7 linked regions of the Homo sapiens genome follow. The protein of the gene in region 4 interacts with the protein of the main gene of each other region in a biochemical or structural test. Each region holds a gene or a part of one and is shown on either strand. Other genes may lie near its edges.

Region 1 (4,433 bases), on a different chromosome or scaffold from region 4:
AAAGCCCTGAACCCATAACCTGTATTTGTGCTTTGCCCCAAAGTTGACCATCTTATTCGTATATGATTCTTAAAGTTGAAAATCCATAAGGCCGGGCGCAGTGGCTCATGCCTGTAATCCCAGCACTTTGGGAGGCCGAGGCGGGCGGATCACGAGGTCAGGAGATGGAGATCATCCTGGCTAACACCGTGAAACCCCGTCTCTACTAAAAAATACAAAAAAAAAAAAAAAAAAAAAAATTAGCCGGGCGTGGCAGCGGGCGCCTGTAGTCCTACTCAGGAGGCTGAGGCAGGAGAATGGTGTGAACCCCGGAGGCGGAGCTTGCAGTGAGCCGAGATCGCGCCACTGCACTCCAGCCTGGGCAACAGAGCCAGACTCCATCTCAAAAAAAAAAAAAAAAAAGAAAATCCATAGGCAACATTTACATGACTACAATTCTGTGAAATGATTCATTGCCTTGTGTGTCAGGATTGGATTTTAGACTTGCACTGTGGGTCTGGTTTTAGGATTCCTGGGCCAATCAAAGGATGAGATATCTAGCCCCAAAGTCAAATGGGATTTTTTGTTTTCTCACTCTTCATCAGTTGTTTAAATTTGTGTTACCTTTTAGTTTTTTCATATTTGGACCATGACTTTCTTAAATTTTTTCCCTAGTATTTCTGATTGCCTTTTAATGTGTTCATGCATTATTTGCCATTATTATGATCTCAAAAGTTTTCTAGGCTCTCAATCTTGTCTAACCTATCGAGTCTTCTTTGTCTAAGCTGTATGCCGAGATTCCTTTCTCGTTCTGTGCCGTTCTGAACTGGTTATTCACTAAGCCCACTACAGAGCTGTCATCCTGGAACTTCTTTCCATGGCTGGAAGTGCTGTTTCCTTTTCCCGTGTCTTCCTATTTTTTTGGTTTATCCCTCATTTTGCTGCAGTACATGCTTGAGTAACTTCTTAAGAAGTGGTTTGTAGGAGGTAAGTTTTTCAAGTCCTTTTTTATCTGAACGTATTTACTTAAAAATTGTTCTGACTCTGGCTTGTTTTTTCTGTTTATCTTTGAATGACAGTATAATGTAGCTGTTTTCATAAGGGCCCTTTGTCATTCAAAAAATACTGTCTGCTAACTCAGTTGTCTGTAATGTGAAGAGAGTGATACCTGTTGCATTGTGGTTTGAAAGATGAGCATATTTAAAGCATCTGGCGCACAGGAGATGTTCAGTACAAGTTAGTTCTTGCTTTCTCTTCTCTCTCTCCCAACACACATAGCCTATTTACCCAGCCAAAATCAGAAGCAGAAACCTTGGCAATAGGGGTCAGGTGATTTTTGACTCTGGATTACAGCTGTAGCTTTGAGGGACAACCTGGATCTGGAGTTGAAAGTCAGTTTTAAGTTTAAAATAAGGAGTTAGAGTCAACTTTCCTGGTTAAGAGAAACCTAAATAGGAATGCTCACTGTAAGTGCCCTTTTGCTTCAGCATTTTGGGCAGAGGATACCCAACTCCATCTGAGAAGTGTCTAGTTTTTATTGTTTGGAATCTAGATTGTCACTACAAATTGAGCTGTTTTTGTGTGTGGGATAGGGGAGGAAGAGGAAATGGAGAAGGGGGAGATGAGCAGGAAAGGTAATTGACATTTGTTGATTACCTGCTGTATGCCAGACAAGGCAGAGAGTGAGAGTCAGCACATCCCAGAGAGATAGCAACAGAATTATATGCATATGGAACTTTTTCATAACCCTAGATGCTTTTACGTATATTATTTCTTTTAACCCTCACAGTGATCCCATGAACAGGTATATATTATTACCTCATTTTACTGTTAAGTAAACTGAGGCTCAGTGAGGTTAAATAAATGTCCTGGGGTCATATAACAGGTGAGTGGCAGAGATGGGATTAGAACTCTGTGATTCCAAAACCTGTGTTCCTGTCCTTATGCCATGCTGTCTCATGCCAATTGTGTGGCCCATAATTAGGTCTTGTAATTATGTATCCTTGATGATCGCATAACTGTGGTGGTGGAGTGGTGGATGGATTTTTAGAGTTTGCTTCTGAACTGAGTCTGGGTTATGCTATTTGGAACTGTCATTGATGGTGAGATAGAGATGATGGAAGAAAACCCAAATATACCAGAAATGGGTAGTACACCTCCATTGTCTATTTATATTTTATTCTCATCAAGATTTCCACCAAGGTGACTCACACCACTAATCTTATCACTTTGGGGGGCCGAGGTGGGAGGATTGCTTGAGGCCAAGAGTTTGAGACAAGCCTGGGCAACATAGCGAGATTCTGTCTCTACAGAATTTTTTTTTTTTTTTTTTTTTGAGATAGCGTTTCACTCTTGTCGCCTAGGCTGGAGTGCAATGGCGCCATCTCAGCTCACGGCAGCCTCCTGCTCCCAGGTTCAGCTGATTCTCCTGCCTCAGCCTCCCGACTAGCTGGGATTATAGGCATCTGCCACCTCGCCTGGCTAATTTTTGTATTTTTAATAGAGACAGAGTTTCACCATGTTGGCCAGGCTGGTCTCAAACTCCTGACCTCAGGTGATCTGCCCACCATGGCATCCCAAAGTGTTGGGATTACAGGCGTGAGCCACTGCACCCGGCGGTCATATGGATTTCTTTCAGCTTATTCTTTACTTGCATGCTCTCTTTCCTGGACTTCTAGCTTTTATTTAATGTTCCGTCTAGGCATAGCAGAAAATAAATAAGAAAGGAAAAGATGATGTTCACTTGCTCAGTGCTATTAGGAGAAGAAGTGAAATGAAGAAACATTTATAAAGTGCTGAGCGCAGTGCCTGGCACAAACACCACCTTTGCAAGTTCATTCCTGTTATTGTTCGGGATTTAGACGGTGAAAGGGGCGATGATCTTCCAGGGCCTTGCCTTTGTGCCATCTAAAAGATCTTTAGCCAGTTCAGCTAATTTACAACTAGAAATCATTTGAACTTGGCTGGGCGCGGTGGCTCACGCCTGTAATCCCAGCACTTTGGGAGGCTGAGGCAGGCAGATCACCTGAGGTCAGGAGTTCGAAACCAGCCTGACCAACATGGAGAAACCCTGTCTCTATTAAAAATACAAAATTAGCCGGGCATGGTGGCGCTTGCCTGTAATTCCAGCTACTCAGGAGGCCGAGGCAGGAGAATCGCTTGAATCCGGGAGGCAGAGGTTGCAGTGAGCCGAGATCATGCCATTGCACTCCAGACTGGGCAACAAGAGCAAAACTCTGCCTCAAAAAAATAAAAAATAAAAAAAATTAAAAAAAAGCATTGAACTCCTGTTTGTGTTAGCATCGTGAGTATGTCCTAAAAGAAGAAATGTGTGGCTGGCTTTATCACCGCAGGCAGCTGACAGAATCTGGAGAGAGAAGGGGAACACAGACAAACCAGGCCAAAGAGCTGGTTTCGACCTGTGGTCCTAGAGCCTGGATCAGCTGCCTTCCACCTTGGTTTGCCGGAAGCCTTTGTAAGGTGTGTCCTAAGTCAGTCATTTATAATATGACTAAAGGTCTGAAATTTGCAGCTGTACAGAATGTCTGTCAGTTTCTCCCATTGGCTGTACTCCTTCTGGCCTCAGGAACTTGGCACAAGCTGTTTCCTTTGCCTGGAACATTATTTCCCTGCTTTTTGCCTGCTTAACTCCTCCATTACCTTCAGATATCAGCTTAGATGCCACATCCTGCAGGAACTTTTCCCCAACTTGCAGCTCCCACTCTGGATTAGATGCTGCTGCTCCTCCTCCCATAGGCCCTTCTGTTTCCTCAGTCATTGCTCCACTCTCATATTACTGTTTTTTTTTTGTTTTGTTTAGTTTTGGTTTTCCTTTTTTTACTGCACTGTAACCTCCATCAGGGGAAGAACGATGTTTGTCTTGCTTGGCATTGCTTAACTTGAGCACAGTGCCTGGCACATAGTAGGTGTTCGAAAGGAATCCTGTATTATTTATTTTTAGCCATTTTCATTGTAAACTTGCACCCTGGAATTCGTAGGAGTCTTCCATGCTTGGAAATGGCATTCCATTGTATCTGTGCCCCTTTGACTGCAAGATTAATGTCAGAGCTCCAGATACTAAATGCAGTGGAGAGGGAGATGAATGAAGGCTGGGTGTTCAGAGAAGTCTCATAAAGGTGCTTAGACATAAATGGAACCTTCAAAAAGTGGCAAAGATATAGGTAGGTGTGCAGACAAGCCTTCCAGGAAAAACAGGATGGGAAGAGAGGTATAGAGGCAGAAATGCTGAGGGTGTGTTTTTGAGACTAAGAGGAGCTTGTACTGACTTGTATTAAAAGATAGGTGTTGGTTGGTAGATGATTATGCATCCCATTGAGGTTCTGGAGCCTCAGCTAGGGTGGGCTCATTGACCTTTTGCTAGTAAATGTCAACTTTCTCACTCCTTAGTTTTGAGATACACGAGTCCTAGCTTTTTGTGACTGTAGCGTAAGACC
Region 2 (3,066 bases), on a different chromosome or scaffold from region 4:
AGGAGTTCAAGACCAGCCTCGCCAAGATGGTGAAACCCTGTGTCTACTAAAAGTACAAAAAATTAGCCAGGCGTGGTGGCAGGTGTCTGTAGTCCCAACTACTTGGGAGGCTGAGGCAGAGAATTGCTTGAACCTGGGAGGCGGAGTTTGCAGTGAGCTGAGATCATACCACTGCACTCCAGCCTAGGCGACAGATCAAGACTCCGTCTCAAGAAAAAAAAAAAAAAAAAACCCTCTGACTCTAAGATCCCCAAACACTGTGATCCTGAGTTGTTAAAGCAAATGCAAATAGCCAGACTTGCCAGATGCAGGCTGTGTGCCAGCAGGACCAGCTATGTAACCTGCAGGGCCCCTTGTTCAGATTTCAAGATGGCGACCACAGAGCATTAAACAAAGCACAGGGTGCCACATAACCACATAGGTCACACGCCCATGAAGCCAGCCCTGGAGGCCAGGCACTGTTTCTGAGCGCTTTGCTGGTGGTAATTTATTTCTCATGATGCGAATGTACAGATGAGGAATATTGAGGCCAGGGGGGTTTAGGTGACTTTCCCAAGGTCACAGTTGGGTGGTAAAGAGCCCTATTCAACCCCAGTTCATGGTCCCAGCATCAGTGGCCACATACGACATCCGCACCTGTGCTCTAATAAATACGGCTCATGCTGTTTTGTGGGATTCCACCTCAGACTGGAATTTAGAAGAGGGCGTCCTTGCTTTGAAAAACACTGATTTAAAAATAAAGTGGAGCCAGGCGCAGTGGCTCATGCCTGTAATCCCAGCACTTTGGGAGGCTGAAGCGGGTGGATCACATGAGGTCAGGAGTTCGAGACCAGCCTGGCTAACATGGTGAAACCCCATCTCTACCAAAAATACAAAAATTAGCTGGGCGTAGTGACGGGCACCTGTAGTCCCAGCTACTCGGGAGGCTGAGGCAGAAGACTTGCTTGAATCTGGGAGGTGGGGGTTGCAGTGAGCCGAGATTGCACCACTGCACTCCAGCCTGGGCGACAGAGCAAGACTCAGTATCAAAAAAAATAAAAAACATAAAATAGAAAGTAAAAAGTGGGAAGTTTAAGCCTCTGGGTCACCAGCCTCTCCCCCTCACCCAGGCATCATCCGACAAGGGCTCCTGCTGCATCGTAGCTGCTGGCAGCCAAGGCCCTGTCGTCCCAGCCTGGTCTGGCCCCCGGGAGGCCCCTGACAGCCTGTTTGCTGTCCGGAGGCACCTGTGGGGTAGCCATGGAAACAGCACATTCCCAGGTAAGAATGGTCCTTGCACTACACGGTGCCCCCAAGCTCCTAATCCTGACAGGCTCTGGGTGGAGGGTGCAAAGGAGCTCCATGCTGCCCCTTCCCACCACCACCACCACTGCAGCTGCCGCCACTCAGCCTTTGGGAAAATGCATCCGCTCACAAAAGCTTCCTTTCGGGATGTCCGTGGCCTGAAAGCCCCCCATATGGTCTCGAGTGTCGGGCCCCTAGCCCTGACTCCCTTGGGGATTGGGGCCATGCCTCACCCACTCTGGACTCCAGCTACTATATTCGGCCATCAGAAGGGAGGGACCCTGCTAAGTAATTCCAGGAGCACCTCCTTTCCTCCCCTGACCAAGGAAAATCGGGGTGGATTCGCCCGAGCTCACCTATCCACTGCTCTCCACCAGGCCTGGCCTGTGGGCTTAGCAGGGATCAGAGACCTTGACTGTCATCCTGGCTCTGCCATTTAACCTCTTGCATCCTTTGGTGTGCAAGTTACTCCGCTTCTTTTCAACCTCGGGGAGAACTATTTTGGCAGAAGTGGTGCAAAGAATAAATGATACAACTTATGTCAGGTGCTCAGCAAACAGTACCTGTGCCCGTGGACACGGGTGTTGACGGTGAGATCTCAGGCCTGTAGACTCACCTTGTAGGGGGAGGGGACAGGGAGCTAGCTAGGAGGTCCTGCATGGGGCTTGATTCATCCCCACCCTCTGACAGAGTTCCTCCACAACATGGACTACTTCAAGTTCCACAACATGCGACCCCCTTTCACCTACGCCACGCTCATCCGCTGGGTAAGCAGGGCAGCTCGGCCCCAAGGAGGAGGAAGACAAAGATGGGGTGGGGGACCTGCCTCCCAAACTCCTGTCTCCCTCTGAGTGCCCTCAGAGTGGGTTCCTCCATTCCCAAGCCCCAGCCCCAAGGATCCCCAAGCCGTGCCTCAAATGTGACCCCTCATGCTGGCTTCACCCCAAACCTGTCCGCAAATCCAAACCTAAACCACCATCCAGGCCAGAGCATGCCAAATTCTGACCCTAAACCTACCCCTTTCCAGATGTCCACCTCAGCCCCATACCTAACCCTCTCCTGGACCCATAAAATAGCCTAAAGCTAACCCCATCTCTGCACCTTGCCCTAAACGTACCCCAGCTCTTACTCTAACTCCTTCCCCAGCCTTTATGCCAACCCAACCCCATCTCCTTCCCTGGCCCCAACGTACCCCAGTATGTCAATACACCCCCAACTGGGCACCATTCCCAACCTTTCCTTGTAACACCCATTTGATCCTTAACTTCATCACCCCATCCCAACTCCTTCATCTCAGCCTCCCCAATGCCTTCTCAGAACCTTCATCCTAGCGCCACACCTAACCCCAAACCTGAACCTCACCCCTACATGATACCAGATATTCCCCGACTGTCTCTGAACTGAAACCCTGACCTAGCCCCATCCTGACTGATAGCCTCACTGCAATCATCATCGCTGACTCTGTAATCCCATTCCTGAATCCAAACTGATCAAATTCCCTGACCCTCAGCCTCACTCCACACCGAACCCCACAACTAACCTCATCCTTGCCCTGAGCCTAACCACCTAACCATGTCCCTGACACGTAAGATACTCGATAATTCAAACCATCTCTGGCTTCTGACCTAAAGCCAAGTCATCCCATCCCTCACCCCTAGACCCCCCACCTGAGTCCACCCCAGCCTGACTCTTAACCCACCCCTTCCCTGACCCTTAAGTTGGCCTGGCCCTTTACCCCTTCCAAATCCTTGACCCCACTTCTGACCCTTCACCTTCCCCAAC
Region 3 (4,433 bases), on a different chromosome or scaffold from region 4:
CTGTTTCCTCTAAGCCAGGCTTCAGCCCATGGCCCCCTCCGTGGAGGTGACCTGCTTCCTTTACGTGATATTTTAATCCTGGGCCCTTCAGAAGGTGAAATTTGGAGTGGGAAGGTGAACGTGTTGGTCCTATTGAGGTCCACCTTCCACTTGAGCTCTGGGGACCACTCTGGCCCTGGAGGACCTGTCCCCTCCAGCTCAGCTGAGAGTCTGGGAGGCATCATGCTTTCCTTCCTTTCTTTTTTTTTTTTTTTTTAAAAAAAACACATATGTATATTTAGAAAAGAAATTGTGCTGTATACAATCTGATGACTTGCTTTTTTTTATATGGCATTGTTTTTCCATACCAGTTAGTACGCATCCAGAATATAATTTTTAAGGGCTGCATAGTATTCTGGAATACAATAATGTACCTAATCCCCTACCATTGGATATCTGGATTATTTCTCAGCATTTTAATAAGAAAACAGTATACTTGTAGCCAAATATTTACACTTATCGGAAATTTTCCCTTACAATGAATTCCAGGAAGTGTGACTACTGGTCAAAGAGTACACACAATTATTTGACTAATGTCAAATAGCTTTCTAGAGTACCTTCAGTAATGTGCACCTCCTTTAGCACCCCAGCCCTCATAGGCATTGCCTAATTTCCTGCATCTTTATAAATACTGGCATCAATATTTAAACATTTTTGTTTCTGGTTTGTAGGTGAAAATTATAGATGTTCTACACTGCAGTTCTTTGACCATTAGCAAGGTTGAACATTTTTTTCCATGACTTGATGGGTCCCAAATTCTTTCTTGATTGAGATCCATAGGAACAGCACACAGTCTGCTTGAGGAAGTCTCATTGCTCTGAGTGTCTCTGGCTCTTTGATTTTACTGCCTTATGCTGCTGAAAGAGGCAGAGAGAGTCCCAGAGGGAAGCCTGGGGCTGAAGGGTGACCTGTGGAGTCACTGTGGGATTCCCAGCTGGCTCTGCTGCCAGGGCACACCAGGTTTTTGCAGGGTCTGGCAGGAGGGGGCCTGGTCCAAGTATCCTTAAATAGCTCCTTCTCTTCCCTCATCTCTCCCAGACATGATGGACTCGTCCAGCTTCTCCAATCTGGATCTGAGTGAAGAAGATTCAGATGACCCTTCTGTGACCCTAGAGCTGTCCCAGCTCTCCATGCTGCCCCACCTGGCTGACCTGGTCAGTTACAGCATCCAAAAGGTCATTGGCTTTGCTAAGATGATACCAGGATTCAGGTAAGAAACTTCTGCAATCTCTGGGGAACAGAGTCAGAGTCCTAGACTGAGCTACAAGAAGGGTTGGAGATCACTCATCCACCACTTCTTTTTTTTATTTTTTATTTTTTTAAACGGCATCTTGCTCTGTCACGCAGGCTGGAGTGCAGTGGCGCGATCTCGGCTCACTGCAACCTCCGCCTCCTAGGTTCAAGCGATTCTCCTGCCTCAACCTCCCAAGTAGCTGGGATTACAGGCACCAGACACCACGCCCGGCTAATTTATTTATTTATTTATTTATTTATTTATTTTTATTTTTTTTCCAGACAGATTCTCGCTCTGATGCCCAGGCTGGAGTGCAGTGGCACTATCTTGGCTCACTATAACCTCCGCCTCCCGGGTTCAAGTGATTCTCCTGCCTCAGCCTCCTAAGTAGCTGGGATTACAGGTGTGGGCCACCAAGCCCGGCTAATTTTTATAATTTTAGTAGAGACGGGGTTTCACCACGTTGGCCAGGCTGCTCTCGATCACCTGACCTCGTGATCCAACCACCTTGGTCTCCCAAAGTGCTGGGATTACAGGCATGAGCCATCGCGCCCTGCCCTAATTTTTTTATTTTTAGTAGAGACGGAGTTTCGCCATGTTGGCCAGGCTTGTCTCAAACTCCTGACCTCAAGTGATCCACCCACCTCAGCCTCCCAAAGTGCTGGGATTACGGGCATGAGCCACAGCAGCCAGCCTCCATTGCTTCTTTAAAATAGAGATTCAGACCCTACCCTAGACCTGCGAAATCAGAATCTCTGGCGTAGGCCCAGAAATCTGTATTTAGAAAGTGCAGCCTGTCTTGCGTTACTCTGCAGGCCAGCACTGGAGAGCTAGTCCATCCCCGCACTTTCTGGATGATGGTGTGGAAGCCCAGAGAGGTCCAATGGCCAGCCAGGATCCCTTCCAGGTGTTGGAGCCAGCATGTCAGAGCCAGGCCTAGAACTCCCAGCTCACTGCTGTGTTCACTCCAGCTGGCTTGACTGGAATCCTCATATTATCTCTTTAAATTCAACGATATGATTCCTCCACACCCCAACTCTGAGAGCAGAATGAAGTGATAGAGAGAAGGGCTTGGCCATGTAGACTTGTGAAACAGTCTAGGAATCCTGGAGAGAGATAGGTTTACTGGCATATATGACCCTGGCATCCTTCACCAAAATGTACATTTAAAGACCATTTCCTGGCTGGGCACAGTGGCACATGCCTATCCCAACACTTTGAGAGACTGAGGTAGGAGGATTGCTTCAGCCCAGGAGTTCCAGACCAGCCTGATCAACATAGTGAGACCTCTTCTCTACAAAAAAAAAAAATTATAAATTAGCCAGGTGTGGTTGCACATGCCTGTAGTCCCACCTACTAGGGAGGCTGAGGCAGGAGAATCACTTGAGCCCAGGAGGTCAAGGCTACAGTGATCCATGATTTCACCACTGCACTCCAGCCTGGGCAACAGAGCAAGACCCTGTCTCAAAAAAGAAAAAAATAAAGACCATTTCCTAACCATACTGATACATTTTTGCCAAAATATATAAGTATAAGGAGTTCTACTGGAGAAGGGATCCTCCTTTATCAATTCATTCATATAAATTTCATTCATTTATTCCTATGTTTCATTGTTTTAACACTAGTACTGTATATAATACTTATATTTAAATACTCATGCAGTGTTAATTTTTTTTTTCTTTTTTGAGACGGTTTCGCTCTTTTCACCTAGGCTGGAGTGCAATGGCGCGATCTCAGCTCACTGCAACCTCCGCCTTCCAGGTTCAAGCAATTCTCCTGCTTCAGCCTCCCAAGTAGCTGGAACTACAGGAGCGTGCCACCATGCCTGGCTAATTTTTTGTATTTTTTTTGAGACAGAGTTTCCCTCTTGTTGCCCAGGCCGGAGTACAATGACGCGATCTCAACTTACTGCAACCTCTGCCTCCTGGGTTCAAGCAATTCTCCTGCCTCAGCCTCCTGAGTAGCAGAAATTACAGGCACGCACCACCACGCCTGGCTAGTTTTGTATTTTTAGTAGTAGAGTTGGGGTTTCACCATCTTGGCCAGGCTGGTCTTGAACTACTGACCTCAGGTGATCTGCCAGCCTCAGCTTCCCAAAGTGCTGGGATTACAGGCATGAACCACCACGCCCGGCCAATATTCTTTTTTTTTTTTTTTTTAATTGAGGCAGAGTCTCGCTCTGTCGCCTAGGCTGGAGTGCAGTGGCATGATCTCGGCTCACTGCAAGCTCCGCCTCCCGGGTTCACGCCACTCTCCTGCCTCAGTCTCCCGAGTAGCTGGGATGACAGGCGCCCGCCACTACGCCCGGCTAATTTTTTTGTATTTTTAGTAGAGACAGGGTTTCACCGTGTTAGCCAGGATGGTCTTGATCTCCTGACCTCGTGATCCGCCTGTCTCGGCCTCCCAAAGTGCTGGGATTACAGGCATGAGCCACTGCCGGCCAATATTCTTAAAACAATAGAGTATTGACACATTTAATAGATGTGTTGGGAAATGGCTATATTTATGTATATTTGTATCTTCATTCTTCCCCAAAGTTCATTTGGTATATTGCCATAAAATACATAAACAATATGGTTGAGAAAGAGAAGTAAATCAATCTCAAGCAATGTTATTGTCTTTCAAGTAGCAGCAATAGCTGTATTTACGGCAGAAGGGGCAAAATGCTTCCTAGATACTAATGCTCAGATTCAGTGCTGGAATATGGGGAGCTGGAAAATGAGTTAACATTGCCGGCTCTGGATGGAAACAGATTATGAGGTGCCATATATTGGTGTATGGCCCTCTTAGCTGTGTAGAAAAGCCATGAGTTATTGCCGAAATTAATGCCTTGCCAGTGAGATGATGGTCATTCACAGAGCTAAACCCAGAACTTTCCAGTTTGTTTCTGCCCTGAGAAAACTGGCTCTGTGTTATTTTATGCCTCTCACCAACCCAAATAACAGAAATTTTTCGATGCTCTTCCCCTGGAATTAATGTGAAAATGGTGAAGAAGAGAAAACTGGCAGACAGTGCTGAGACACTCCTACTGCATTGCACATTTTGGTTGTAGTGATAGGAGCGAGGGCCCCTCTGGCAGGCAGGCAAGCAGGAGCAAGCGACAGATCTTGTGTGAGCCCGGCATTGCTCTGAGCCCAGGGTTTACCCTCAGAGGCTTTCT
Region 4 (4,433 bases):
ATTTAAGGGCCCACCAGAAGCAGGCCTCGAGGAGTCAATTTGCCTCTGTGTGCCTCAGTGGAGACAAGTGGGAAAACATGGTCCCACCTGTGCGAGACCCCCTGTCCTGTGCTGCTCACTCAACAACATCTTTGTGTTGCTTTCACCAGGCTGAGACCCTACCCTATGGGGTATATGGGCTTTTACCTGTGCACCAGTGTGACAGGAAAGATTCATGTCACTACTGTCCGTGGCTACAATTCAAAGGTATCCAATGTCGCTGTAAATTTTATGGCACTATTTTTATTGGAGGATTTGGTCAGAATGCAGTTGTTGTACAACTCATAAATACTAACTGCTGATTTTGACACATGTGTGCTCCAAATGATCTGGTGGTTATTTAACGTACCTCTTAAAATTCGTTGAAACGATTTCAGGTCAACTCTGAAGAGTATTTGAAAGCAGGACTTCAGAACAGTGTTTGATTTTTATTTTATAAATTTAAGCATTCAAATTAGGCAAATCTTTGGCTGCAGGCAGCAAAAACAGCTGGACTTATTTAAAACAACTTGTTTTTGAGTTTTCTTATATATATATTGATTATTTGTTTTACACACATGCAGTAGCACTTTGGTAAGAGTTAAAGAGTAAAGCAGCTTATGTTGTCAGGTCGTTCTTATCTAGAGAAGAGCTATAGCAGATCTCGGACAAACTCAGAATATATTCACTTTCATTTTTGACAGGATTCCCTCCACAACTCAGTTTCATATATTATTCCGTATTACATTTTTGCAGCTAAATTACCATAAAATGTCAGCAAATGTAAAAATTTAATTTCTGAAAAGCACCATTAGCCCATTTCCCCCAAATTAAACGTAAATGTTTTTTTTCAGCACATGTTACCATGTCTGACCTGCAAAAATGCTGGAGAAAAATGAAGGAAAAAATTATGTTTTTCAGTTTAATTCTGTTAACTGAAGATATTCCAACTCAAAACCAGCCTCATGCTCTGATTAGATAATCTTTTACATTGAACCTTTACTCTCAAAGCCATGTGTGGAGGGGGCTTGTCACTATTGTAGGCTCACTGGATTGGTCATTTAGAGTTTCACAGACTCTTACCAGCATATATAGTATTTAATTGTTTCAAAAAAAATCAAACTGTAGTTGTTTTGGCGATAGGTCTCACGCAACACATTTTTGTATGTGTGTGTGTGTGCGTGTGTGTGTGTGTGTGTGAAAAATTGCATTCATTGACTTCAGGTAGATTAAGGTATCTTTTTATTCATTGCCCTCAGGAAAGTTAAGGTATCAATGAGACCCTTAAGCCAATCATGTAATAACTGCATGTGTCTGGTCCAGGAGAAGTATTGAATAAGCCATTTCTACTGCTTACTCATGTCCCTATTTATGATTTCAACATGGATACATATTTCAGTTCTTTCTTTTTCTCACTATCTGAAAATACATTTCCCTCCCTCTCTTCCCCCCAATATCTCCCTTTTTTTCTCTCTTCCTCTATCTTCCAAACCCCACTTTCTCCCTCCTCCTTTTCCTGTGTTCTCTTAAGCAGATAGCACATACCCCCACCCAGTACCAAATTTCAGAACACAAGAAGGTCCAGTTCTTCCCCCTTCACATAAAGGAACATGGTTTGTCAGCCTTTCTCCTGTTTATGGGTTTCTTCCAGCAGAACAGAGACATTGCCAACCATATTGGATCTGCTTGCTGTCCAAACCAGCAAACTTTCCTGGGCAAATCACAATCAGTGAGTAAATAGACAGCCTTTCTGCTGCCTTGGGTTTCTGTGCAGATAAACAGAAATGCTCTGATTAGAAAGGAAATGAATGGTTCCACTCAAATGTCCTGCAATTTAGGATTGCAGATTTCTGCCTTGAAATACCTGTTTCTTTGGGACATTCCGTCCTGATGATTTTTATTTTTGTTGGTTTTTATTTTTGGGGGGAATGACATGTTTGGGTCTTTTATACATGAAAATTTGTTTGACAATAATCTCACAAAACATATTTTACATCTGAACAAAATGCCTTTTTGTTTACCGTAGCGTATACATTTGTTTTGGGATTTTTGTGTGTTTGTTGGGAATTTTGTTTTTAGCCAGGTCAGTATTGATGAGGCTGATCATTTGGCTCTTTTTTTCCTTCCAGAAGAGTTGCATCAACAAAGTTAATTGTATTTATGTATGTAAATAGATTTTAAGCTTCATTATAAAATATTGTTAATGCCTATAACTTTTTTTCAATTTTTTTGTGTGTGTTTCTAAGGACTTTTTCTTAGGTTTGCTAAATACTGTAGGGAAAAAAATGCTTCTTTCTACTTTGTTTATTTTAGACTTTAAAATGAGCTACTTCTTATTCACTTTTGTAAACAGCTAATAGCATGGTTCCAATTTTTTTTAAGTTCACTTTTTTTGTTCTAGGGGAAATGAATGTGCAAAAAAAGAAAAAGAACTGTTGGTTATTTGTGTTATTCTGGATGTATAAAAATCAATGGAAAAAAATAAACTTTCAAATTGAAATGACGGTATAACACATCTACTGAAAAAGCAACGGGAAATGTGGTCCTATTTAAGCCAGCCCCCACCTAGGGTCTATTTGTGTGGCAGTTATTGGGTTTGGTCACAAAACATCCTGAAAATTCGTGCGTGGGCTTCTTTCTCCCTGGTACAAACGTATGGAATGCTTCTTAAAGGGGAACTGTCAAGCTGGTGTCTTCAGCCAGATGACATGAGAGAATATCCCAGAACCCTCTCTCCAAGGTGTTTCTAGATAGCACAGGAGAGCAGGCACTGCACTGTCCACAGTCCACGGTACACAGTCGGGTGGGCCGCCTCCCCTCTCCTGGGAGCATTCGTCGTGCCCAGCCTGAGCAGGGCAGCTGGACTGCTGCTGTTCAGGAGCCACCAGAGCCTTCCTCTCTTTGTACCACAGTTTCTTCTGTAAATCCAGTGTTACAATCAGTGTGAATGGCAAATAAACAGTTTGACAAGTACATACACCATATCCAATTGGTTTTGTCTTTCTCTGAGATGGAGGGTTGGGAAACTGAGTAAGGCCCACTGCACACACTAGGAAGATACCTCCAGTGAACAGCTTCAGGCTGAAGCTATGTCCTCACCCCCGGTGCTCCTAGCACACTCTGGCTTCTGAAGGCATGAGGGCCTGGAAAAGGCGCAGGCTCCCAGGGTTGCTTCTTTGCATATGAAAGAGCACTGAAGCATGTTTTAATGCTTGTTTTAAAAAATAATAATAGGCCGGCGCGGTGGCTCACGCCTGTAATCCCAGCACGTTGGGAGGCCGAGGCGGGCGGATCATGAGGTCAGGAGATCGCGACCATCCTGGCTAACACGGTGAAACTCTGTCTCTACTAAAAATATAAAAAATTAGCCTGGCGTGGTGGCGGCTGTAGTCCCAACTACTCAGGAGGCTGAGGCAGAAGAATGGCGTGAACCCGGGAGGCGGAAGTTGCAGTGAGCCGAGATCGCGCCACTGCACTCTAGCCTGGGCGACAGAGCGAGACTCCATCTCAAAAATAATAATAATAATAAAGAAACTAAAAAGAGTTACATGACACTAGCCAACCCAAAGTGGAAAGGGCTGTATGTTCAACCTAAGGCCAGGAAGCTTCATCTGCCTTCATTGCTGTACATTGCAGGAATCAGGCTTGGGTAGTGGTTGGGAGTTTTTTAAAAGAAATACTTCTCTCACCACCACCCCAGTGCAAAGTATCTTTAGTATTTTAGTTTCAAGACTCTGGGTTCAACTCAAGGTATCTTCCCACCAAGAATTACTGTCTAAAGTATCTTCCAGTTCTGTCACTGCTGTCTCATGGGACCTCATGACTGATGCTAGAAGAAAATCTTCAGCCGAATCAAGTTTAAAGGAGTTTAACTGAGCAATGAACAATTTGTGAATCGGGCAGCCCCCAGGAACACAGCAGATTCACGGAGACTCCAGGGGTGCCTCGTGGTCAGAACAAATTTATAGACCAAACAGGTAGAGTGATGTACAAGAATCGGAAGTGAGGTACAGATACAGTGAGATTGGTTACAGCTTGGCGTTTGCCTTATTTGAACGCAGTTTGAACATTCAGGAGTCTATGAGTGGTTGAATTATGACCACTGGGATTGGCCAACCCTTAGCTATTGTTACAGGTGCATACTATTAAGTTAGGTTTTTAATTTTGTCTGACCATTAAGCTAGGTTACAGTTCATCCACAGGACTCAAATATAGAAATATGGAGTCCTTCTCAGGCCATATTTAGTTTGCTTTAACATTGATCTTAAATGGTCTGCAGGAGGACCACAAAAAATGTCAGGAACCAAAGTGGGGTCAGCAAGAAAGGATGTGACCTAGAAGTCACCGCTCCTGAGCACAGGTAGGAAACAGGGGTAGGATCAGGCAGTACATGGACATGGCCATGCACAAAGAAG
Region 5 (4,433 bases), on a different chromosome or scaffold from region 4:
GGGTCACAAACCCATTCCCCGATGATGGGCAGGCAGAGGTTGGGCCTGGGTGACCTGGAGGGAAAGCTCTCGCTCCCAGTGAGGGGGCCAGGCAGAAACAAGTGGGACCAGGCTTGCCATGAGAAGCCAGGTGTTTTGTAATCTCCCAACTGTCAGTTGTTGGCATTGCTGCCAGACTGGGTGACCTTGGACCTGTGTGATTGGCTCTGTTCCGTGCACATTTCTCACATCAGGCCTGCCCTGAGCTGGACACAAGGTGGTCCCTGGCCCTGCCCACACCCTCTGCTGGTCGGGCCCCGGTCTCCCATGCGGGCTCCTTTTGAGAAGCAGGGCCCAGGCTTGTGAAGTGCAGCACAGAGGAAATGGTTCTTGCCGCTGTTGGCAGGAAGGAACTAGGTGTTGAGCTGACAGTTACACTGGCTCCCTGGCTGTGTCAACAGGGAGGTGACATTGAAAGCTGGGTATCAAGGATGCATAGGAGTTTTGTTAGATGGGGAAGGGATGGAACGAGCCTCCCTGTGGCAGGAACAACAAAGATCTGGTCCTGTTGGACGCATCCTTCAGCTTTGCAGGGCCTGACAGGTTCTAGAGCTTTTCCTGCCAGGGCCTCGTCCCAACTTTGAGTTGAGCGGAACCCTGAGGTTGAGCCAGGTCCCTCGACATCCTCCACCTGGACCCTCATCTCTGACCGGAGGCAGGAGACCCTGCCCCAACCCATTCCTATTCAGCTTCCTCTCTCGGGTTCTTCCTTCCTTTTTTTCTCAGCAGGCACCACCTCCCACTTTGAGGGCTGGGTTGGGGGCCCCAGAGCAAGGGCCTGGCTGCATGCCAGACTCCACAGTCTCCCCAGGCTGACTTCCTTCATCACCTCCCATGAAGCCTGGGGCTGGTCCTCTCCGTCGGCAGCAGAGCACAGGGAGAGGCTTTCTTTGGCCCACCTCCCAGCTTTAACACTTTACGGTGGGGCTTTGGGCAAGTTTCTTCTTGCTGAGCCTCAGTTTCCTCCCCCGTAAAATGGGCCAGCTATACATTCCTTGAAAGGTAGATGAAGTCACTCGTGGATAGGCACAGTGGGAGCAGGTTAAGGAAAGAAAGAATAGTGTCTTGCTTTGGACTGGAAGCCCCCGAGGGCAGGAGCGGGTTAGAACCTCTTGCCTGGCACCAGTAAGAGGAGAACTGGGTCCCAGGCCTGTTTGGAATCCCTGCTGGAACCAGCCAGAGGGAAGGGAGGATGTGGACCCTCCTCAGGAACCCCCAGCTGCCGCCTGGAGGCCAAGTTGTAGCCCCTGGTGTAAGGCAGAGAAAGGTCTGGCCCTAAGCCCCTTTCCAAGACAGGGTGCCCTGAGACCCCGCCCAGCAGGAGCCTACCAGGAACCCACTGGCTTGGAAGCACGCTGGCCAGCTCGCTGAGCTCCGCAACTGAGGGGGACTGGGTCCCATTTCACACAGCAGGAGGGTGAGGCCTGGGTGCTGGCAGGCTGAGCTGTCCTGGCGTGTCAGCACTGGACCCCAGGGCTCGGAGGAGGGGCACGGCTGAACACCATTGGTCCCTGGGGTCACACTGCAGAGGTTTGGTTCTGTCTCCTGACCCCTCATGGCACAAGCGCCTGGACTTCTCTGTGCCTCAGTTTCTTTCTTTTTTTTTTTTTTTTTTTGAGACGGGAGTCTCGCTCTGTCACCAGACTAGAGTGCAGTGGTGCGATCTCAGCTCAGCTCACTGCAACCTCCGCCTCCCGGGTTCAAGCGATTCTCATGCCTCAGCCTCCCAAGTAGCTGGGATTACAGGTGTCCACCACCATGCCTGGCTAGTTTTTGTATTTTTAGCAGAGACGAGGTTTCACCATGTTGGCCAGGTGCCTCAGTCTTCTTGTCTCCTTGCCTCCTAGGGTTGTGAGTCCCGGCCCAGCCCCTCCACCCCCCTGCCCCCCCGATGCGACCATGGGCTCTGGCAGTGACTAGGTGGCCACCCTCCGCCCCCGTGGGCCAGCGGCGATTCTCTGCGGGACCTGGCAGCACCCCGGGCCAGCTCTGGGGAAGGTAGGAAGGAGCCTCCCAGTCCTGGTGCTGGGGCATGGGGGCCAGCAGGGGTGGGGCGCAGGGCCCTGAGCTGCCTTCCCTCCCCATGGGGGGAGTCACCCTGGCTTCTCTCCCTGCTCTGTGCACGAGTGGCCCCCCTCAGTCCTATCGGGGCCTCCTCTCTGTGGTGCAGCCCTGGCCTCGAGGGCCCCCTGGCCAGCCCGCCTGCCCGGGATGAGCGCTTACCCTCCCAGCAGCCGCCGTCCCGACCTCCACACCTCCCCGTAGAGGAGCGCCGAGCCTCGGCTCCTGCCGGCGGGAGCCCCCGAATGCTGCACCCAGCCACCCAGCAGAGCCCGTTCATGGTTGATCTCCACGAGCAGGTAGGCAGAACCCCATCCCCTGTGCCCCTGGCCCTGTGAGCCAGTCTGAGAGGCAGAGGCAGCAAGGCCTAGATTTCACCTAGCTTGCTTCATTTCACGTTCCAGGGAGGCATTATTGGCCCTGCTTTACAGGTAGGTAAACTGAGGCCCGGGGAAAGGGCCACACTGGGTGACTAGCAGAGCTAGATTCCCACGGGGCTTTCTCTGCCCCGGGGGCCTGGGAGTAGAGGCACAGTCTGGTCTGCACTGAGGTAGGCCGCCGTGGAGAAGGGAAGGGAGCCGGCAGCTGGATGTGGCAGGATGATTTCTCCTGAGAGTAGCCCTCGCGGTCAGCTTCCTTTTCATACTTTCCCGGCGTTCTCTCCACCCACAGGTGCACCAGGGACCTGTCCCTCTGTCCTACACGGTCACCACAGTGACGACCCAAGGCTTCCCCTTGCCTACAGGCCAGCACATCCCTGGCTGCAGTGCCCAGCAGCTCCCAGCATGCTCCGTGATGTTCAGTGGGCAGCATTACCCCCTCTGCTGCCTCCCGCCCCCGGTGAGTGAGTGTTTCTAGCTCCTCCTCCACCAGCTGCAAGCCCCAGGCACAGGCCAGCGGCTCAGCGGGCCCAGGGCAGCCCTGAACTGGGCTGAGCTATCCAGCCATCCAGGCTGTCAGAGCGCCTGCCTGGCCTCCCCAGGAAAGCATACGCGTGTTCACATTTGGTAATAGAGTGTTTCAAGGTTCAGGAACCTTCCAGTACCCCTGTACCTGCCTCACAGCTTGGCAGAGGCCCAGGAGTTGAGGCTGTGGGCCTTAACAGTGGAGTGTCCTGCCTGGGTGGCCTAGGACAGGGATGGGCCTTCCACAGGGTTTCTTATACAGACCCTGGAGCTGCTGGGTGTGTGCCCGGTGGGGGCCTTTTGCTGGGTGGCATGGCGTAGACCTGGCCCAGAGCCCAGGAGAACGTTCTCAGCCCCCTGCCCCCTCTCTTGGCAGCTTATCCAGGCGTGCACCATGCAGCAGCTGCCTGTGCCCTATCAGGCCTACCCCCACCTCATCTCCAGTGACCACTACATCCTGCACCCCCCACCACCGGCCCCACCCCCCCAGCCCACCCACATGGCGCCCCTGGGGCAGTTTGTGTCTCTGCAGACCCAGCACCCTCGGATGGTGAGTCGGCATGGGTCCGATGCTGGAGGGAGATGGCGTGGGGGGAGGCAGGGTGAGGACAGCCTCGTCTCACTGACTTGCTGACCCGGCGCTGGTTCTTCCAGCCCCTCCAGCGGCTCGACAACGACGTGGACCTGCGTGGGGACCAGCCCTCCCTGGGCAGCTTCACCTACTCCACCTCTGCGCCTGGCCCAGCCCTTTCCCCGTCGGTGCCCCTGCACTACCTGCCCCACGATCCGCTGCACCAGGAGCTGTCCTTTGGTGTGGTGAGTGCCACCCCGACCCCCACCTGGGCTCCAGGGCAGCTGGGAGGCAGACCCGCTGGGCCGACCTGCATCTGGGCTCCCAGGCAGCTGGGAGGCAGGCCCACCGGGCTGACTTGCACGTGGGCTCCGGGGCGGCTGGGAGGCAGGCCTGCTGGGCTGACTTGCACCTGGGCTCCGGGGCGGCTGGGAGGCAGGCCCACCGGGCTGACTTGCACGTGGGCTCCGGGGCGGCTGGGAGGCAGGCCCACCGGGCTGACTTGCACCTGGGCTCCGGGGCGGCTGGGAGGCAGGCCCACCGGGCTGACTTGCACCTGGGCTCCGGGGCGGCTGGGAGGCAGGCCTGCTGGGCTGACCTGCACCTGGCCCCTCTTGCAGCCATATTCTCACATGATGCCACGGAGACTGAGCACCCAGAGATACCGCCTGCAGCAGCCACTGCCCCCGCCGCCCCCACCCCCACCCCCACCACCCTACTACCCCAGCTTCCTGCCCTACTTCCTGTAAGTATCCGCACATCCGCCCCAGGTCCCTGATGCCCTGTTCTCCTGGAACCTCCAGTGGTTAGACCTAAACACAGCTCCAGGGGCCCCAGGGCCTCTGAAGCCACCTGGC
Region 6 (4,433 bases), on a different chromosome or scaffold from region 4:
CAGGAACACTACACAGAGAGGATCATTCTCATTCTTTTTGCATGGGAAAAAAAAAGAATTATCATCCACAAAACAGATCTTGAGACTAAACAATAACAACAAAAAGAATTAACATTCCCATGAAAGAAAATTTGGAAAATACAAAAAAGTAGAAAGGGGGAAAAAAATCATTCAAAACTCCATAATGAAAATAAAACTATGGCCAGGCACAGTGGCTTACGTCTGTAATCTCAGCACTTTGGGAGGCCAAGGTGGGTGGATCACTTGAGGTCAGGAGTTCGAGACCAGCCTGGCCTACATGGTGAAACCCCATCTCTACTAAAATACAAAAATTAGCCAGGTATGGTGGCAGGCGCCGGTAATCCCAGCTACTCGGGAAGGTGAGGCAGTAGAATTGCTTGAACCTGGGAGGTGGAGGTTGCAGTAAGCCAAGATCGTGCCACTGCACTCCAGCCTGGGTGACAGAGCCAGACTCTGTCTCAGAAAAAGAAAAGAAAAGAAAACTATGATTAACATCCTGGCATATTTATTTATTTATAGAGGTTTTTTCTTTTTAATTTTTTTTTAAATAGAGATAGGGTCTTGCTGTGTTGCCCAGGCTGGTGTGTGAACTCCTAGGCTCAAGCGATGCACCTGCCTCAGCCTCCCAAAGTGCTGGCATTACAGGCATGAGCCACCACATGCAGCCTCTATATGGAGTTTTTTTAAAAAAAACACATGCAGTCATACTGCTTTTTAATTTCGCTTTGCTTAATTTCAAAACACTTCTGTTCTCTAGGGGTTGAATTCTCATCTCAATTTTCTTATCTACTCCAAGGGATTGAACGACCACCAGCTCCCTTTTGAACTGTTAGACACTTATTTTTGACTCCCTGATAGGCGTCTCTATTTCAGATGTCCCAAAGGTACCTCAAGCTCACCACATCCAGACATTGTAGCCCTTATCTTGGTCCACAGCCTGCTCTTCCTCCTCCTGGGCCCTCCCTTGGCATGAGCAGTATCTCCATGTCCCTGTTGAATGAAGCTGGAAATTGAACCCCTCTCCCCCATCCAGGCAGTGACTGAGTCCTGACATTTCTACTTCTATAATGCCTCTGTTCTGTCTTCATTCCCACTATCATTGCCACAGACGGAGCCCGAAGATGTCTGAGCCCCTAACTCTGGCTGCGAACTAGGTCCCCAGCCCTGACTCTAGACTGAATCCCTCTTGTCCCCCGACTATAGGTTGAGCCCCTTGCCCTTGCCATCAGCTGGTCTATTCCCAATGGCCTTAGAATGAATCTAATCCTCATAGACTGAGCCCTAACCTGGCCACGGGTTAAACCATAACTACAACCAGTTAAAAATACTTGCCTGGCCGGGTGCAGTGGCTCACGCCTGTAATCCCAGCACTTTGGGAGGCCGAGGTGGGTGGATCACGAGGTCAGGAGATCGAGACCATCCTGGCTAACACGGTGAAACTCCATCTCTACTAAAAATACAAAAAATTAGACAGGTGTGGTGGCGGGTGCCTGTAGTCCCAGCTACTCGGGAGGCTGAGGCAGGAGAATGGCGTGAACCCAGGAGGCGGAGTTTGCAGTGAGCCAAGATTGCGCCACTGCCCTCCAGCCTGGGCGACAGAGTGAGACTCCGTCTCAAAAAAAAAAAAAAAAGCTTGCCCTTGGCTGGGCATGGTGGCTCACGCCTGTAATCCCAGCACTTTGGGAGGCTGAGGCAGGTGGATCACCTGAGGTCAGGAGTTCGAGACCAGCCTGGCCAACATGATGAAACCTTGTCTCTACAAAAACTATAAAAATTAGCCAGGCATGGTGGCACACACCTGTAATCCCAACTACTGGGGAAGCTGAGGTAGGAGAATCGCTTGAACCCGGGAGGCGGAGGTTGCAGTGAGCTGAGATCATGCCACTGCACTCTAGCCTGGGCGACAGAGCGAGGCTCTATCTCAAAAAAAAAAAAATGCTTAAAGGGCTGGTGGTGCAGAGCTAACCCATCTATTCATCAAGAACCCACTCAAAGCATCACCTAATGAGGCTGGACCCAGAGTTATATCATCCTATACAAAGGACAGTCCCTGATGAACCCAAGAATAAGGACTTGCACAGAGGGCCAGATTCTGGTAGGGAGGGTTTGCTGGAAGAGCTGGGTGGGTCTTGAATCACATCCCTGTCTTCTCCATAGCTGGAAGACCCCTCTGTGTTCCCAGCTGTGATCGTGGAGCAGGTACCCTACCCTGATTTACTGCATCTGTACTCGGGACTGGAGTTGGACGACGTTCACAATGGCATCATAACAGACGGGACCTTGTGCATGACGCAGGATCAGATCCTGGAAGGCAGTTTTTTGCTGACAGGTCTGTTCCCTTCCTGGGCAGAGAAGGTGTGGTAGAAAAAGGGGCTGTGTCTTTAGGGAACAGCAGCCCACAATGGCCTCTAGTAACCCCGTGCAGAATGGGCAAGTCCACCAGCCAAAAAGTTGTGCTGCTTCACAGAGGAGGGAACCATCTTAGTAGATTCATGGTCTGTGGAAGTGGGGTGGGACAATGAGGAGTGAAGACCAGCTGAGGGGGTGGAGAGTTAGGTAAGGAGGGGTGCTGGGCCCTTCCTGGCTGTCCCTCAGTACCTCTGGTCAGGGTCCCCTGTTTCTCCCTCACTTAGCACTCACTTCAGGGTCAGCCCGAAGGATGCTTACCACCATCCTTTCTTCGGGCTGGCCCTGATTATAGCTGTACCCCCTGCCTTGTGCCCTGAGGGAACTTTTCTTCTCTCCTCCCACCATGGAACCCGGACCAGATGACAATGAGGCCACCTCGCACACCATGTCAACCGCGGAAGTCTTACTCAATATGGAGTCTCCCAGCGATATCCTGGATGAGAAGCAGATCTGTAAGTTTGAACCCCAGTGCCTGAACTCAAGGCAACAAAATAATTCCATTTAAAAATATGAAATCCATGTATTGGTTTCTCAGGCATGTGTGCACACAGGTATACATGCACCACACCCACCGATATACATATGACTTTTATCTTTTTGTATTTTGGTGATGGGTTTATTTCAATTAGCACGATGTCCTCAAAGTCCATCCATGTTGTAGCACGTGTCAGAATTTCTTTCCATTTTCAGGCCAGGCACGGTGGCTCACGCCTGTAATCCCAGCACTTTGGGAGGCTGAGGCGGGTGGGTCACCTGAGGTCAGGAGTTCGAGACCAGCCTGACCAACACGGTGAAACCCCATCTTTACTAAAAATATAAAAACTTGCTGGGCGTGGTGGCGCAAGCCTGTAATCCCAGCTACTCAGGAGGCTGAGGCAGGAGAATCACTTGAACCCAGGAGGCAGAGGTTGCAGTTAGCCGAGATCGCACCATTGCACTCCAGCCTGGGTGACAAGAGCGAACCTCTGTCTCAAAAAAATAATAATAATTTATTTCCATTTCAGGCTGAATAATATTGGCCAGGGTGCCTTTCTCAGGCCCCTCTGCTCTTTTGCTTAGCTCCCAGGAAGACTGAGATATGCAGCATGTGGCTCTTTTAGAAATAAGTGATCCAGGCCGGGTGTGGTGGCTCACACCTGTAATCCCAGCACTTTGGGAGGCTGAGGCGGGTGGAATACGAGGTCAGGAGTTCGAGACTGGCCTGGCCAACATGGCAAAACCTCGTCTCTACTAAAAATACAAAAATTAGCCTGGCGTGGTGGCACATGCCTATAATCCCAGCTACTTGGGAGGCTGAGGCAGGAGAATCGCTTGAACCCGGGAGGCAGAGGTTGCAATGAGCCGAGATCACACTATTGCACTCCAGCCTGGGCAACAAGAGCAAGACTGTCTAAATAAATAAATAAATAAAATAAAGAAATAAGTGATCCTTGCCCATCCTACCAGGCTCCTAACTCCCCAGAGGGCCCCCAAGGCAGGCTCTTCCCAATGACCCCTCAGGCAGATGCACAGGAGGGTTCCCCCAGATTGCCTTCTCCCAAGGGGTGGTGTGGTACAGTGAGGGAAGGCAAGCCATAAAGCTGAAATCTGAGAGATTTCTAGTCCTGACTCTCACCAGTATTCATCCAGGATCCAATAATGGGTGCCTATTTGTACCGGGCACCAACTTGCTGTGTGACCTTGGGCACATGACTTCCCCTCTCTGGGTCTGTCTCAGTTTCCTCATCAGGAAAACACAGGAATGGGGCTACATGATCTCTAAGGCCCCTTTGAGTCGTAAAATGAGCCAAGGACTAAATCAAGGTGGCCCTTTACCTGGGGTGCCGCCTAGAACTTCCCTACCACCAACAGTGGGCTATAAATGTGGCAGCTGTAATTGGGGCCAGCTTGTGCCCACAGCTCTGCAGATGTTTCCTCTCCTCGTGGTACAAGCCACATGAGGCATTTTCAGGTGTATCCTGTGTCTGGGGCTGGGGGGATGAGCCCCCCGCCCTCCCTTGGAA
Region 7 (4,433 bases), on a different chromosome or scaffold from region 4:
CCTTACCTCCCAACTTACCAAAGCTTTGTTTAACTCTTCCATCCTTTTCTGAGCAATGTCATGAAAAAGGGAAGAACCTTGTAATCTTCGTTATTCCACAGTGGGGGTGACGGGGAGCCTTTGAGAAGCTCTAGGGGAAGAAAGAGATAAGGATAGGACATTTTTGTTCTTACACGTGTTAGGTGGCGCTTCAGATGATGTGTTAGTTTGCTAGGACTGCCATAAGAAAGTACCACAGACTGAGTGGCTCAAATGAGAAATTTATTTTCTCACAGTTCTGGAAGCTAGAAGTCTGAGATCAAGATATTGGTAGAGTTAATTCCTTCTGAGGCTTCTTTCTGGACTTATAGGTGACTTGTCTTCCAGTGTCTTCACATGGTCTTATGTTTTGTACCTGCCAGTGTTCATATTTCATCTTAGAGGGACACTAACCATATTGGATTAGGGCCTACACTAATAACCTCATTTTAACTCAGTTATCTCTTTAAAGACATTCTGAGGTACTGGGGGTTAGCATGTCAACATAGAATTTTGGGGGATACCATTCAGCCTATAATAGATGATATTAAAGAATTACTGTAGGCCGGGCACGGTGGCTGACACTTGTAATCCCAGCACTTTGGGAGGCCGAGGCGGGCAGATCACCTGAGGTCGGGAGTTCAAGACCAGCCTGACCAACATGGAGAAATCCCGTCTCTACTGAAAATACAGAATTAGCTGGGCATGGTGGCACATGCCTGTATTCCCAGCTACTCAAGAGGCTGAGGCAGGAGAATCGCTTGAATCTGGGAGGCAGAGGTTGCGGTGAGCCAAGATCACACCATTGCACTCCAGCCTGGGCAACAAGATTGAAACTTTGTCTCAAAAAAAAAAAAAAAGATTTATTGTTAGTATATTTAAGATATGATAGTAGTATTGTGTTAGACATCTTTTAGATACACATGCTAAAGTATTTAGAGATAAAATATGGTATTTTAGATTCCTTCAAAATAATCCTGTACAGAGGGTAAGGACTTGAGGGCAGTGAGTGGGGTATGGATGAAAGAAGATTGGCCATTTGGTGATAATAGTTGAAGCTAGGAATGGGCACATGGGGATTCATTATATATACTATACTCCACAATTTTTATTTTGTTTAAAATTTTCATAATAAAAATATTTGAACAGATGCAGCGGCTCACACCTGTAATCCCAGAACTTTGGGAGGCCAAGGAGGGAGGATCACCTGAGCCCAGGAATTCAAGGCCTGGCTTGAGGAATTCAGGCCTGGCTTGAGGAATTCAAGTGAGCAACATAGCGGGACCCTGTCTCTAAAAAAATTTTAAAAATTAGCTGGGCATGGTGGCCTGAGACTGTAGTCCTGTCTACTCGGGAGGCTGAGGTGGTAGGATTGCTTGAGCCTAGGAGTTTATGGTTGCAGTGAGCTATAATTGAGCCACTGCACTCTAGCCTGGGAGACAGGGTAAGACCTTGTCTCAAAAAAAAAAAGCAAAACCAAAAAGATTTAATGATTTTATGAAATTTGAGGCTTAGATTATATTTTGAGCTGTCATCAAAATACATAAATTTTTTTTTAGTCTTGCCAAAAAAAATTAAAGTTGAATTTCATCAAGCCTCCAGATATGACTACTCAGTTAGAGGGGGTATAGAAAAACATGTTAAGCTACACAATAGGAATATAGTTGGCAAAATCCAAACTATGGGAAATTCTACATGAATAAACAGCCTGAGTTCTTCAACAAATAAATTGCAAAGTAAAAAAAGCTAGACAGATGAATGGCAACTCAGAAATGTAAAGAAAGTTAAGAAATGTATCAGTCAATTGCAATATGCAGACTTAATTTGATTTAAGCAAAAAACTGTCTTGTCTTTCCTTGCACTGCCACCATTTATGATTTTTTAACACAATTGAACATTTGAATGCTGGTTGGCTATTTAATATTAAGGAAATATTGATTTTTTAATGTAATAGTTTCTGTTTTTTTTTTTTAAGACAGAGTCTCACTCTGTCACCCAGACTGGAGTGCAGTGGTTTAGTCTCAGCTCATTGAAACCTCCACCTTCTGGGTTCAAACGATTCTCCTATCTCACTCTCCTGAGTAGCTGGGACTACAGGTGCGTGCCACCACGCCCAGCTAATTTTTTGTATTTTTAGTAGAAACAGGGTTTCTCCATGTTGGCCAGTCTCAGACTCCTGACCTCAAGCAATCTGCTTGCCTCGGCTTCCCAAAGTGCGGGATTACAGGAATGAGCCACTGCGCCAGCCAGGTTTGGTATGATTTTGTGTGTTTATAGTTTATATATATATATAAACTAAAATATTAAATGATGTATTCTGGTTCTAGAGATAAGCGGTGTATGACTTTCAGAGTAACAGATGTCTCGTAGTTAATTTAATTTTCTCTTTAAATGTGTTGCAGTTGAAGCTTCTTGTCATGACGGGGATGAAACAATTGAAACTATTGAGGCTGCTGAGGCACTCCTCAATATGGATTCCCCTGGCCCTATGCTGGATGAAAAACGAATAAGTGAGTGATTATGATTGTTTATGTTTATGTACTTTGTTAAGTTACTCTTGCCATCTTTCTTTATTAGTAAAATCAAGAGATTAGAAATGATGTTATATATTTTTTGTTACAATCACATTTTAAGGTATAGTAGGAATTGAGGTGCCTTTGCAAAAACGTAGAGTTAAAGATGACATTTTAATTTGAGAATGAAGCCTTTGGGAACAAAAAAATGTAATTTATTACTTACCAAATAGAAGATCATGCAGAATTTCTTCTCTTAACATATTGATGAGAGTATTAGGGTATCAAGGGCCCAAATGATTATAATTTAGTCATCTCTGTAGTTATCAGCAAATAGGCAACAATCTATTGAAAATTTTACTGACACATCATGGCATAAAATTCACTGCCACATTATTGATCTGCTTTAAAATTCCTGTTCTCCTTTGGGCTTTTCTGACAAGCAATCAAATTCATAAAGTAAATTATTGCTAAATCAGTCTAAAATGTTTATTCAATATTTGCTATATTCACAGCAGCAATAATTAGGCAATAACATGAGATACAAATGAGCAGATACTGTTCCTTTCCTCAAGCTTACAGTTTAATTTTGAAGACAGTTACTTATGTAAATAACTACAAAGCCAAGAATAAAGGCCACAAGAGTGATAGCGAATTGCTCTAGTAGCAGTGGGTATTCTAGCTGAGAATATCAGAGACTGGCTTCATTGAAGGAGTATTCTGACCTGGGCTGTAAATGACAAGCTTTTAATAGGTAGAAGAGACATGAAAGGTCATTCAAGCTGGAGGGAATGGAGTTAAAGATACAAGACACAGATCTGTTAAAAAAAAAATGAATGAAATCTTTGAGATCAAGATGTTTTGGTGTGGTTGAAGTGTAAGCTTCATGGTGGGTGGGAAATGAGATTGGAAAGGTAGGTTTGGAACTAGATTACAGAAGCTTTGTAAGGCATGCTATAGAGATGGGTTGTGATTATTTTTTTGTTTGTTTTTTGTTTTTCCTATGAACTATGGAAAGGTATGTCAGTTTTGTTTTTTATTCCCCTAATTTTATGGTCAGGTCAGACTTAGGTTTCAGAAAATAACTCTCACAGCAATGTGAATAATCAAGAGGAGAGATGAGACAGACTGGTGATAGGAAGTCAAGTAAGAAAGACATTGAAATAGCTCGCCGTGCCTGGACTGGTTTAGGGTATTTGATTTTGGGAAGGGGAACTTAAACGCAGGAATAGATTTCAAGATTTTATTTCTACTTTAATCTTCTAGTCATAATAGAAACAAGAAATTTTCTCAATCGTTTTTTAACTTATAATACACAGTGGACTATAATTAGTTGATTTTATTTTCATTAGATAATAATATATTTAGTTCACCTGAAGATGACATGGTTGTTGCCCCAGTCACCCATGTGTCCGTCACATTAGATGGGATTCCTGAAGTGATGGAAACACAGCAGGTGCAAGAAAAATATGCAGACTCACCGGGAGCCTCATCACCAGAACAGCCTAAGAGGAAAAAAGGTAGGTGGGTTACTTTGTTTAGGGCGCATAGTCAAGTCTTGGTGTGAAATCTAGATATCACTTTTATTCTACATAGTTCTTTCCTGCTGCAGTTAAAACTTATGTAAGAAAAACATTGAAGGCACAAAATGGAAATTATGAGTTATTTCTTGGCCAGGCACGGAGATTCATGCCTGTAATCCCAGCACTTTAGGAGGCCGAGGCAGGAAGATTGTTTGAGGCCAGGAGTTTGAGACCAGCCTGGGCAACAAAGCAAGACCTCATCTCTACAAAAAATTTTAAGAATTAGCTGGGCACGGTAGGCACCTGTAGTCCTAGATACTTGGGAGGCCAAGGTGGAGGATCCCTTGAGCTCAGGAGTTACAGGTTTCAGCGAGCTAAG

The links.
Region 1: the proteins of RUNX1 (region 4) and WWTR1 form a complex in vitro, tested with the Homo sapiens proteins (one study listed by IntAct).
Region 2: the proteins of RUNX1 (region 4) and FOXP3 form a complex in vitro, tested with the Homo sapiens proteins (one study listed by BioGRID).
Region 3: the proteins of RUNX1 (region 4) and VDR form a complex in vitro, tested with the Homo sapiens proteins (one study listed by BioGRID).
Region 5: the proteins of RUNX1 (region 4) and RNF44 form a complex in vitro, tested with the Homo sapiens proteins (one study listed by BioGRID).
Region 6: the proteins of RUNX1 (region 4) and ELF4 form a complex in vitro, tested with the Homo sapiens proteins (one study listed by BioGRID).
Region 7: the proteins of RUNX1 (region 4) and ELF1 form a complex in vitro, tested with the Homo sapiens proteins (one study listed by BioGRID).

Annotation. Positions count from the first base shown.
Region 1 is NC_000003.12:149,647,799-149,652,231, reverse strand, and holds part of WWTR1 (WW domain-containing transcription regulator protein 1), read left to right. Parts: intron 1-258; exon of another isoform or gene 259-2,392; intron 2,393-3,129; exon of another isoform or gene 3,130-3,307; intron 3,308-4,433. UniProt on the Homo sapiens protein: Transcriptional coactivator which acts as a downstream regulatory target in the Hippo signaling pathway that plays a pivotal role in organ size control and tumor suppression by restricting proliferation and promoting apoptosis.
Region 2 is NC_000023.11:49,252,111-49,255,176, reverse strand, and holds part of FOXP3 (forkhead box protein P3), read left to right. Parts: intron 1-1,109; coding exon 1,110-1,260; intron 1,261-1,974; coding exon 1,975-2,051; intron 2,052-3,066. UniProt on the Homo sapiens protein: Transcriptional regulator which is crucial for the development and inhibitory function of regulatory T-cells (Treg).
Region 3 is NC_000012.12:47,852,446-47,856,878, reverse strand, and holds part of VDR (vitamin D3 receptor), read left to right. Parts: intron 1-1,077; coding exon 1,078-1,249; intron 1,250-4,433.
Region 4 is NC_000021.9:34,786,370-34,790,802, reverse strand, and holds the end of RUNX1 (runt-related transcription factor 1), read left to right. Parts: 3' UTR 1-3,002; downstream 3,003-4,433.
Region 5 is NC_000005.10:176,529,970-176,534,402, reverse strand, and holds part of RNF44 (RING finger protein 44), read left to right. Parts: intron 1-1,886; 5' UTR 1,887-1,930; coding exon 1,931-2,037; intron 2,038-2,209; coding exon 2,210-2,399; intron 2,400-2,772; coding exon 2,773-2,940; intron 2,941-3,381; coding exon 3,382-3,555; intron 3,556-3,659; coding exon 3,660-3,821; intron 3,822-4,196; coding exon 4,197-4,321; intron 4,322-4,433.
Region 6 is NC_000023.11:130,072,498-130,076,930, reverse strand, and holds part of ELF4 (ETS-related transcription factor Elf-4), read left to right. Parts: intron 1-2,178; coding exon 2,179-2,350; intron 2,351-2,722; exon of another isoform or gene 2,723-2,773; coding exon of another isoform or gene 2,774-2,789; coding exon 2,790-2,882; intron 2,883-4,433. UniProt on the Homo sapiens protein: Transcriptional activator that binds to DNA sequences containing the consensus 5'-WGGA-3'. Transactivates promoters of the hematopoietic growth factor genes CSF2, IL3, IL8, and of the bovine lysozyme gene.
Region 7 is NC_000013.11:40,949,424-40,953,856, reverse strand, and holds part of ELF1 (ETS-related transcription factor Elf-1), read left to right. Parts: intron 1-2,420; coding exon 2,421-2,528; intron 2,529-3,883; coding exon 3,884-4,051; intron 4,052-4,433.